2 separate regions of the Homo sapiens genome follow, and region 1 is linked to region 2. Evidence: fine-mapped expression QTL. A gene starts in region 2. The other region holds a variant in brackets. All regions are shown on one strand. Distances are between the middles of the regions.

The links. PIP is the estimated chance that this variant, and not a neighbour inherited with it, causes the effect. A credible set is the group of variants that fine-mapping cannot tell apart.
Region 1: its variant is the best candidate, but not a certain one, in a credible set for the expression of LINC02937 in whole blood (INTERVAL, PIP 0.61).

The regions. Positions count from the first base shown.
Region 1 is chr9:91,152,437-91,157,805 of GRCh38, forward strand. All of the region lies in intron 1 of LINC02937 (long intergenic non-protein coding RNA 2937), which reads right to left. The region is part of intron 2 of LINC00484 (long intergenic non-protein coding RNA 484); the gene reads left to right. Among named protein-coding and RNA genes, the nearest start is that of LINC02937, 8.2 kb to the right of the region's middle. The variant G/A (reference allele first, on the strand shown) is at 2,138.
Region 2 is chr9:91,160,354-91,165,722 of GRCh38, forward strand. It overlaps LINC02937 (long intergenic non-protein coding RNA 2937), which reads right to left and starts at 2,927. Exons shown (of 6, transcript NR_184105.1): 1 at 2,652-2,927. The region is part of intron 2 of LINC00484 (long intergenic non-protein coding RNA 484); the gene reads left to right. RefSeq lists enhancers at 2,887-2,936, 4,334-4,628.

The DNA.
Region 1 (5,369 bases), 7.9 kb before region 2:
CAGAAGAAGAAGAAATGAGATGTCCCAGCTCAAGCATGGAGGAAAGGGGGGAAGAGAGCAAATTCCTCTGTTCTCTGTCTTTTGTTTTGTGCAGACCCTCAAGGGGTTGGATGAGGCCCACCTACATTGAGAAGGGCATCCGCTTCACTAAGTCTTCTGGTTCAAATGCTAATCCCATCAGAAAACTGTCACAGACACACCCAAATAATGTTTAATCTGAGCACCTACGGTCCACTCAAATTGACTCATAAAATAAGTCATCACATGGGTGAAAGCCTTCCCTGGATGGTGAGTTTTCTGTCTCCCCAACGTGCATGCATGAAGAGCTGTCTGGGTAGATCTGATTCCCATCTTTTACCTACAAACATTTACCCACAACCTTGCCCAAATAACACTGAGCTCCAGGCTGTATGTGTATTATTTCTCATCTTTACAATGGCCCAGAGAGGAGTTCCTGAGTCCTGGAGGGAACTGAGGTAAAAGTGTAACCACTTGATGGGTTCTTCCTGCCCACTGCACGAAATCCATCCACTGAGACCAGGGCATTGCAACAGAGAAAGAGTTTAACTGACGTAAGGCTGGCCCATGCAGGAGAAATGAAGTTATTACTCAAGTATTCGGTGGGCTGGGGGACTAGGGAATGGGTGCTGCTGATTAGCTGGGGAGGAAATCATAAAGGGGTGGAAAACAATCCTTGTGCACTGAGTCCACCTCTGGGTGGAACCACAGGACCAGCTGAGTTATGAGTCAGGGGTCCAGGTGAAGTCAGTCTGAAAAAAATCAGATAAAACCAATCTTAGGTTCTACAATAGTGATGTATCCACAGGAGCAATTGGGGAACGTCACAAATCTTGTGACCTCTGGCCACATGACCCCTGAGCAGTAAGGGATTATAGAAATTATGCCATCATTTAGGCAGAGTTCAGGCCTCTCCCACAATTCTAATCTTGTCATCCTTCATTAGTCTTACAAAGGCGGTTTTTGGTCCCTGAGCAAGGAGGGGGTTAGTTTTATGGAGGGATTTACTTTTACCCTTGCTTTTAAGTTAAACTATAAACTATATTCCTCCTAAAGTTACCTTGGCCCATGCTGCCTTGACCAAGGACAGCTTGGAGGTCAGAAGCAAGATGCAATCAACTAAGTCAGATTTCTCTCACTGTCATAAATTTTGCAAATGCAGTTTCAGAGGGAATGAGTAGGGAAAGGTGGAGGGCCCCTTGTAAGTTATTTGCTGAAGAGCACACAGCTAATGGGTGCAGTTAACACAGGCTTTTGTTGAGACGAAGTCTTGCTCTGTCACCCAGACTGGAGTGCAGTGGTGCGATCTCGGCTCACTGCAACCGCTGCCTCCCGGGTTCAAGCAATTCTCTGCCTCAGCCTCCTGAGTAGTGCCCACCACCACACACAGCTAATTTTTGTATTTTTAGTAAAGATGGGGTTTCATCATCTTGGCAGGCTGGTCTTGAACTCCTGACCTCATGATCCACCCGCCTGGGCCTCCCAAAGTGCTGGGATTACAGGCGTGCGCCAGTGCACCCAGCCTAGGCTTTCCTTTTTTAAAACTCTTTTATTTTATTTACCAATACATATTCATGAAAACAAATCAACCCACACAATAAAGCACCAACAAGAAAGACAAATTAATCACTAAAATTGTAGTACCTCGAAGTACAGTTGACCCTTGAACAATGCAGGGGTTAGGAGCACCAACTCTCATGCAGTCAAAAATCCTCGTATACATTTCGACTCCCCCCAAAACTTTACAGTAATAGCTTGCTGTTGACCAGAGGCCTTACTGATAACATAAATAGCCAATTAACACATATTTCATATGTTATATATGTCATATACTGTATTCTTAAAGTAAAGTAAGCTAGAAAGAAGAAAATATAATTAAGAAAATCATTAAAGAGAAAATATATTTACTATTCACCAAGTGGGGGCGGATCATCATAGAGGTCTTCATCCCTGTCTTCAAGTGGAGTAGGTCGAGGAGGAGGAAGAAGAGGGATTGGTCTCACTGTCCCAGGAATGGCAGAGGTGGAAGAAAATCTGCATATAAGTGGCCCACACAGTTCAAACCTATGTTGTTAAAGGGCCCATTGTGCATCCAGTCCTTGTCTCAAACTGAAGGCTC[G/A]GCCTTGTTCTAATGCTATTGTCTCTAAGATATTCCCTTATATATTTACATCACTGCTCCACTGCAACGCACTGCTAAGATGCTTACACCCTGTCTCCGGGGGCTATGGTTGCCCTAGTTGAGGAGGACTCAGTGGCAGAAGGGACAGGAGTTCACCGACAACTGAAGCCCTGTCCCCGGGGTGCTCTCTTGGGTGCTGGTGACTCCCGGCATCCCCTCTTGGGCATATTTTGAGGTCTAGAGAACCATTTTGCCCAATAGTGGCTGTCAGATAAGGTCTGTTTGGCAGATGCCTGCAGAGCTGTGTGCCTGCCAACAGACATCCCCTGGCTTCCATCCCACCCTTCCCACTATGAGGAGTCAGAGTTGGTGTTTGGCTGACCACAAGGAACCCAGGCAGAAAAGTCCCCTAAGCCTACTGCAGCTCTGTGGTGTGGCTGAGTGGGATGCTCAGCAGGTGTTTGGGGAGAAGGGAAGGTGGACACCCTGAAGGCCTCTGACCCTACCTGAGGCCAAGGATGGGTGAAAAAGTGTAGCATGAATGGCAGCTGGGAGAGCACAGAGCCCAGGGTCTACCCTGACTTCAGGGGGCCTCAGCCAGTCAGACTTTGAATAACACCAGCTACACTGGGGCCCCAATTTCTGTGGCCCCCTCCCATGACAAACAAGGCCCATTGGTCAGGACGAACCAGATCTGATGCAGGAACAAGTGGCCTGCCAATCTCAGGGGCTCTGCCCATCACAGTCACTTAGCACCTCAGTACCTCAGCACTTCTCCACTTGTGGGCTGGTTGGGCTTCCTTGCAGCATGGTGGCCATGCTCGATCAGGGCAGTCAGACTGCTTCCACGGTGGCCCAGGAGTATTCCAGAGAGCCAGCAGGAAGCTGTCACCTCTTCATGACCTGGCCTTGAAAGTTACGTAGCATCACTCCACCGTAACTTTGGTGGACAGGCCACTAAGTCAGGCCCAGAATCAAGGGGACCAACACTGACTCCACTTCTCGGTGGGTGGAGCTGTAAAGCCACCTCACAGGACTGTCATGTTATTTATGAGCTAATATCTGTAAAGTGCTGAGAACCATTCCTCACAGTAATGCAATTTATACAAGTGTTTCTTAAAGAAAGCATACTGCTCATGGATTTGAAAATCATGTCTCAGTAAGCTAACTCCCTGTTTGATATCCAGAACATTCCTGCATCACCCAGTGGGGGAAGCACCAAATCCTGTTGCTCTTTCACTGCCATGCAAGTGCCTGGCCATGGAAGTTGGAGTCAGAATCCTTGTCACACCTTCCAAAAGTTTCACCAGAGGTTCAGAGAATCCAGAGAGGGCTGGATCTCCACCCTTCCAGGGAGAGGGAACAAACAGTGGGCTTCAGCAGCCTGACTCAGGAGCAAATTCCTAGATGACTCTACCTGGAACATGGCACACTGGGGCTCAGGGCTGTGAAACTCAGAGCAAAAACAAGGCCAGTGTTGACTGAGGCTCTCACCCTCCACTGCACGTTCAAACCATCTGGAGACCCTCAGATGGCTCCACACCTGGCCTCTCCCCAGGCAGAGCTCTGAAGTGGGACCTGGGCTTCAGAATTCTGAAACCTCCCAAGCGATTTCAAGACACACCAAAGCCTAAAAGTAACTGAAATGATGGGTTTCCGACGCTCCTGTGCTTGCGAGTCACTTGGGGACCTTGTTAAGATACAGACTCTCACTCAGTGGGGCCGGCTGAAATTCTGCATTGCTAGCAATCTCCTGGCAATGTTCATGCCTCTGGTCTGTGGACCACGCTTTGAGTAGCAGAAAAATAGAGCAGCATTTCTTAGTCTTGTCTTGTCTTTTTAACTCTATGCTTCCCACTGATTAATGTACAAATCCCATGCCTTCTTTTAATATTATTTGAAAACTGCACAGTAAATTAAATATTGCAACTAAAACCAAGTGTTAATTTGAGGGGACAAAATTCTGCATTGTTTGCACAACTCACTTCTGGGCCTTCCCATCCCACCAACACCTACAATCTGGGAAAACACCCTGTTGCAAAAACAACTGGAGGTGGCACCCATCCGGCTTCACCCAGGTTTCCACCGGCTCCTTCACCCGGCACCTAAAGGACTCACCACCCACCCCCTATTGGGGTCTTGCTTCACCCATCAACAAGCAAGATAATGTCAGGTGGCCTCGAAGGGCCTTTCCAATATCACTAGGGACTTTTGATCTTAAATCATCTTTTAATCTTTTCCATCCCATGGATCCTCGGCCTCCTCTGTGACTTCCAGGAAAGAAGCAGGCCTCCAAAAGCATTTTCTACCACAGGCACTTGTGCCTAGGGACTTTCCTGACAAGGACATGAACAGGCACATCAGGGTTGGTGACCACACCATAAGATGCTGGCAGGAACAAGGCCTAGGCCAAGGGTTGAGGAAACTATCTATAAGGGCTAGATGGCCTCTCAGGCTCTGCTGTGAGCTCACCACTATTCGGCTCCACCCCTGAAGCACAAAGAGCCACAGATGGTGTGTGAACAAAGGGTGTGACTGCGTTCCAGTAATATTCACTTCACAAAAACAAGCGTTGGGCCGGATTTGGCCCACAGGCTGTAGTTACCGGAGAGCAGTGCTTCTCAAACTTTAATAGCACAGAGATCACTCAGGGATCTAGTTAAAATACAGATTCTGAGAACATGGATTTGAGTGCAGCACTGTCCAACAGAAATATGATGGGGCCAGGCAAGGTGGCTCATTCCTGTACTCCCAACACTTTGGGAAGCTGAGGCAGGAGGATCACTTGAGCCCAGGAGTTCAAGACCACTTGAAGCAATATAGTGAGACCCTGTCTCTATTAAAAAAATAAAAGTTAAAAAAATTGACCGATCAGGGCAGATCACCTGAAATCAGGAGTTCAAGACCAGACTGGCCAACATGGTGAAACCACGTCTCTACTAAAATAAAAAAATTTGCCAGGCATGATGATAGGTGCCTGTAATCCCAACTACATGGGAGGCTGAGGCAGGAGAATCGCTTGAACCTGGGAGACGGTGGTTGCAGTGAGCCAAGATCACACCACTGCACTCCAGCCTGGGCAGCTGAGCGAGACTCCATCGCAAAAAAAAAAAAATTAGCTGAGTGTGGTACCACACGCCTGAAGTCCCAGCTACTTGGGAGGGTGAGGTGGGAGGATCACTGGAGCCCAGGAGGTCAAGGCTGCAGTGAGCTAAGATTGCACCACTGCACT
Region 2 (5,369 bases):
ACGTGGCAAACGGTGGGGGGAACAATCAAGACGGACCCAAAGCGGTTGCAGCAGAGAGGGAGGCATCCAATCCCGTCCACCAGCCCCCAAAGGCCGTCGTCCTGCCTGGAGAACCTAGCAGTGCTAGGCAAGGTTCACTAGTAAAGAAAAATATCTGACCGGCTCCAGCTCCAGCCCAAGCTGCTGGTCGGGGCGAGAGGCCTGGGGACCTGTCCAGGGCAGGAGCCCCCGCACTGCGGGGGAATCCTCCTACTACTGCACGGGGTGGAGGGGGCGGGCCGGGGGGGAACATGCAGGCCCTGGAGCCCCACTCAGAAGACGCCTGAGCAGAGGCGCCTCGGCTCTACCCAGCTCAGCCCCCGCCCCCGCACTGCACATCCCCTCTGTGGGCTTCCATCCTTCCTCCCCTTCCCCCCCACCACCCAAACTGCCCCCAGGGCTCTGCTGAGGCTTCCCTGCTGTCTGGGCAGGGGCTGTTGGTTCCTCAGGAGCACGCCGTGAGATGAGCACCCAGGGAGTGACGAAGGGGGCTCCAGGGGATACTGGGGAGGGCGAGTCAGAGCAGGGCCCAGAGGGGAGCAGCAGGCAGGGCACAATTTCGGGCCAGTTCCGGGGCAGGGTGGGTGGAGCCCAACCCCTAGGGGAACTCGGATCCTAATGACACCCTCAAGTCTGCCCGTCTGCCCGGGCTTCTTACTCCCACTCTGGTCCTCTTGGCCAAAGGCATGAGGCCGGGAGGACGGCGATGAGGATCAAAACCCCTGGGTCCTTCCTGCCTCTGCGCCTGCCAGCAAAACAGCTCCATGAGTCCAAGGGCAGCTCAAGGGCAGCTCAAGGGCAGGCCACGGGAGCCACAGGTCCTGGCCATACAGCAAAAACATACGGAAGCCAGGGCAGTGCAGACACAGCAACAGGACAGAGGGGCCTGGCTGGAGCGCCAATGCCAGGGGTCTCTCAAGGCCCGCAACACGGTGTCCTTCTTGGACTAGAGTCTCAGTTAAATAACAAAGAGGGGATCTGATGACGTCCACGTGGGCTTCTCCCTGCCTTTGGTGGCGCCCCGGCCCTCCTGTGCGTCCTCCTGGCCCTGCTCAGATCCTAGGAGCCATCACACACTCAACATCCCCAGGCAGCACCAGCACCAAAGCCCCTCATTCCATAGCCCTCTAACACCTGGCTCAGAGTGAGCTCAGCTTCTTTTCTTCACACATGTCTTCATGGCAGCAAGGGAATCAAAAACTCTCCTCCTGGCCACCCACGGAAATGCAGCTGTCACCAGATGGAAAAGGAGGAGAAGATGCAGTGGGCTTGGGTGGTCCCAGGTGGCCCCTGGCCGGACTCTTTCCCTCAGTTGGGGGACAGAGGCTGATTGGAAGAGCACCTCCTTCCCAACGCTTGAGGACAGGGCCTTCCCTGACACCTGTGCCTGGGCTGGTCTTCTGCACCCTTAGCCTCAAGTAGCCTCAGACCACTGCAGTGCTGTTGAGGGTTATCCATAGCGTTTTTTTCCTGTGCTTTGGGTCTCCTTTGCCATCTGCAGCTGGACTAGGGGTCTTGGATTGCCAGGGAGGCTTCTGTGAAGTGGGCTGAAGAGAGCCCTTCCTCACTCGGAAGGCACAGCACAGCCCCGCCGCATTTATAAGTGAAAAGGGAGACCCCACTGTGATGGGGATCCTTCTGCCATTCCCCCAAGACCCCGGGATTGATGAGAGGCATTCAGAACTGCAAGGGGCATGAGGGGGCTGTCATGTCCTTGTCTGGGCGGCCTCCCAGGCTCAAATTGCTGCCTGAGAACAGGTGGCAGAACATTCCTGAATATTTAACCCTTGGCTCGCAAGAGTGCAGGAATGACAGTTCTGTGCCTGAGGAAAAGATTCGTGTCACTCGCACCTCACTTAGGACAACTCGTGCTTTACAGAAATTTACTAATGTTAAAGAATGATTTGTGGTTTCTTTGCTCAAATACAGGAAACTGACTTTTCTCAAAAATGAACTCTCCCTACCAATCTGCACCATGAAATTATTTCAGCAAACAAAAAATAATGGTTGCCCATCACCGCACACTGCGTGTGACTCAGCCATCACTCACAGGCAAAGAAGGGTGTTCTCTCCTCTCCCTGTCAGTTACTAATTCTCTGTAAATGACCATTTGACATCCTGGCCGGGGAGGATTCAGATCAGAGATGACTTCCCCACTGCCACAAAGTATGGTTCTGGGAAGGACAACCAGCCCCAAGGCCACGAAGATTCTGAAAAAGTTTCTTCTCATTTGAAGTCCAGTATTTCCTCGGCCCCATTTTTCTGTTAAACAATCCTTTTCCCTTGGAGATTGCTAAAGCTTAGCTCCAGGGCCAGCCTAAGCTCCAGCAGAACTGGGAGCGTCTCCTGTGTCTACATAGCTCCCTTCCCTCCTGCCTTCCTACTATCAAAGGAGAAACAGCGTGTAATTTGATTTTTTCCCCTTCTCCTCACTTGCCATACTGTGTTCTTTGCCTGGGCCTGTGCCTCTCCTTGCAGAGGCTGTGGACAGGAGCACCGAGAGCCACTTCCTGGAGCATGCTCCCCACCCCCGCAGCCTGTGGCTTCAGCCTCTGCTTCTGCAGACAGCGGTGGAGGAAGTCAGGACTGTCCCTTCTGACCTGAACACCTACCTCCAAGTCCTCCCTGTCGCCACAGAGACCCGGCAATGCAAGTGAGTCCTGTTTGACCTCGTCAATCATCGCAGACTGTAAAGGTGACTCGGATGCTCAAGAAACGAGCATACCCAGCAGTGGGCCCCAGACTTCTCGCAGGCCCAGGTCCTCCTGGGTGCACAGAGACCTACCAGACAACGGTCCGGCTGCACTGGTGTTGTGAGATGCCTGTGTCAGAAGACACTGAGTTCCTCACTCGCCTCCTATCATGCCGATGATCACAGGAGAAAGAGCAGGGCACATGCATGCCAGCATGCTGAAGGGAGGCCAAAACCCATGCTTGAAAACCACAGGTCCTGTTCTAGGAGCAGGAGATATATTTAGCCAAGCAGGATGTTTGTGGGTAAACCAACATTTTGCTGTAAATAAAATTCTGCAAACTCGGGACTTTGAGAATTGCAGAAGCTTACTTTGCCTGCGTATTGGCAAGAGAGCTATTTTCCTAACACAAGCTCACCATGACCCTCATTCAGAGATGCGCTTGACGCCGAGGGTGGTGCCTTTTCGCTAAGGGGTGCTGTCAGGGGATTGAGTAGGAGCCTGAAGAGCTAGGAGTATCTTCTCCCTGGGCAGACCAGCAGGCAGACCCTGTCCCTTCACACTACAGTGGCACGTGATGGGCCCCACTGCCCACCTGGTTCTGGTGTCCAGGCTGAAGTCCTCGTGTGACACTCCAAACTGTTCTGGCAAGGAAGGCTCACGGGTTCTGACCTACACTCTGAAACTGACCAGTAGTGATAAACTCCGCATGGACTTCAGCCATCATTGCGTACGTAAGAAATACGTGTTGCACACAGAGTGCTTCTCTACATTCCCAGGTTTGCCACTCCCCGACTTTTGCTGAAGCAGGTTTCTACTCCATCAGTCCCACAGATGTGTTCACAGGGCCAGCACTGAGTGTGGTGCTGGGGAAGGCATGTGCTTGGAGGCAGCCCTGTGAGATGGCACAGCCTAGGGGAGGAGTCGTGGTGGGGAAGACCCTGGCCACGCATGATAGAGGAAGCGTGGCCACACAGTCTTTGCTGTCCCTGCCACAGCATGGTGCTGTAAGTCTCCTCCTTCCGAGTCTGTGCAGACTTATGTGACACATTTGACCCAACAGAAATGCAGCATTTGTGGTGTGTGAAAGTTCCAGACCAGGCCACAGCGAGCTCCGTGGCTTCGGCTGTGTCTCCTGGAGCACTTGCTCTCAGGACCCCCTCTCTCAGAGCCCAGGCACCACGCCGTGAGAGAGCCCCAGCCACAGAGACAGGCTACGTGTAGGTGCTTTCATCAAAGTGCCACCTGTGCCTCCCCGCAGCAGTGTCAGGCCACCAGCTTGGACAGGCAGCTCCAGCCTCCAGTGGAGGCTTCAGAGGACAGCATCAAACAGCATCCACAAAGGAGACCCACCTTGTGAAAAGCGCCTAGCCAAGCCCTGCCCAAATCCCTGGCCTGTGCAATTGTGAGCAAAGCAATTCAATTTGGAGTGGTTTTATGCTGCAGTAGGTGACCAAAGCACTATGGAAGTGAATATCAGGAGCCCCTCACTGGGATGTCAGAAGACATTCAAGGAAGGTTTCCTGGAAGATTTAGTACCTCAGGTGGTACAGGAGAAGGTGAGATGGAGAGAAAGCAACCCCAGTCTGAAGACGCAGTGGTAAGAAAGGGTCATTCCCCTGGGCATGTGTGGTCTGCTGGGGGATGACAGCCGAGGTGAACTTGAAGCAGAGGACACTCAGACAAGCTGCACTCTGAATCCCGCTACGCTGACCGCAGCACTTGCTGAAGAAGCCGCCTCGCCACGCCCAAGCCCTGCAGAGGGAAGGACTGAGGAAGGCAGCTCAGAGGCCTCAGGCAGCCACAGTGTGCATGCTTGTCTATGACTCACAGCTACGACGTGGCCTGTGCTGCTGCAGCTGCTGATAAGCCTCAAACCTCATATACCACTCTCTTCCGAGGATTTTTTAAATACACAAAACTGGGAGTGAGAGGGGTATTTAATTCCCCTACTAACACATGTTGGGCGCAGCTGGAGCAGCCAGGCCCACTGTAGCTGGGAAGATGCGGTGCCTTGAGGTGCAGGCACTGCTCACTGCCACATGTGAGCACAGGTTCTGAGGGTGAAAGGTCCCTGGTATCTGGCCAGAGTGTTAGACTCTGGAACATAAGAAGCCCCCGAGGTGGTGGAGAAGGTCTAGCCAGGCTCCAGACTGGCTTCACAGAGGTAATGCTTTTTGGTTTGAAATCCGTAAGAGCGCACTACAACTTCAGGGCAAGCTCCAACAGTGCTTCTCAAACTTTAATGAGCACCCAAATCATCAGGGGGCGCGGGGGCAGTGGGTCGCTTACTAAAATGAAGATTCTGCATCAGGAGGTCTGGGGCGGTGACACGATTCTGTGTTTCTAACACGTTCCTGGGTGAGGCTGAAGCCACTAGTCCATGAAGCACACTTTGAGTAGCAAGAATGTGGAGGAACTGTCCCAGGATGGGCCATGATTTACCTGAATTCTCACAGTGGCTTAGACAATGGAGACCTTGTCCACAACTAAAAAATAAAAATAAAATCGAACCACACTCATTGTTCCAGGAAACAGCAATAACATTGGAAATAAATCAAATGGTTTATTACTGAGATTGTATTATCAGAGCTATATATTAATTTTTTTTTCTTTCTTTCTTTTTTCCTTTTTTGA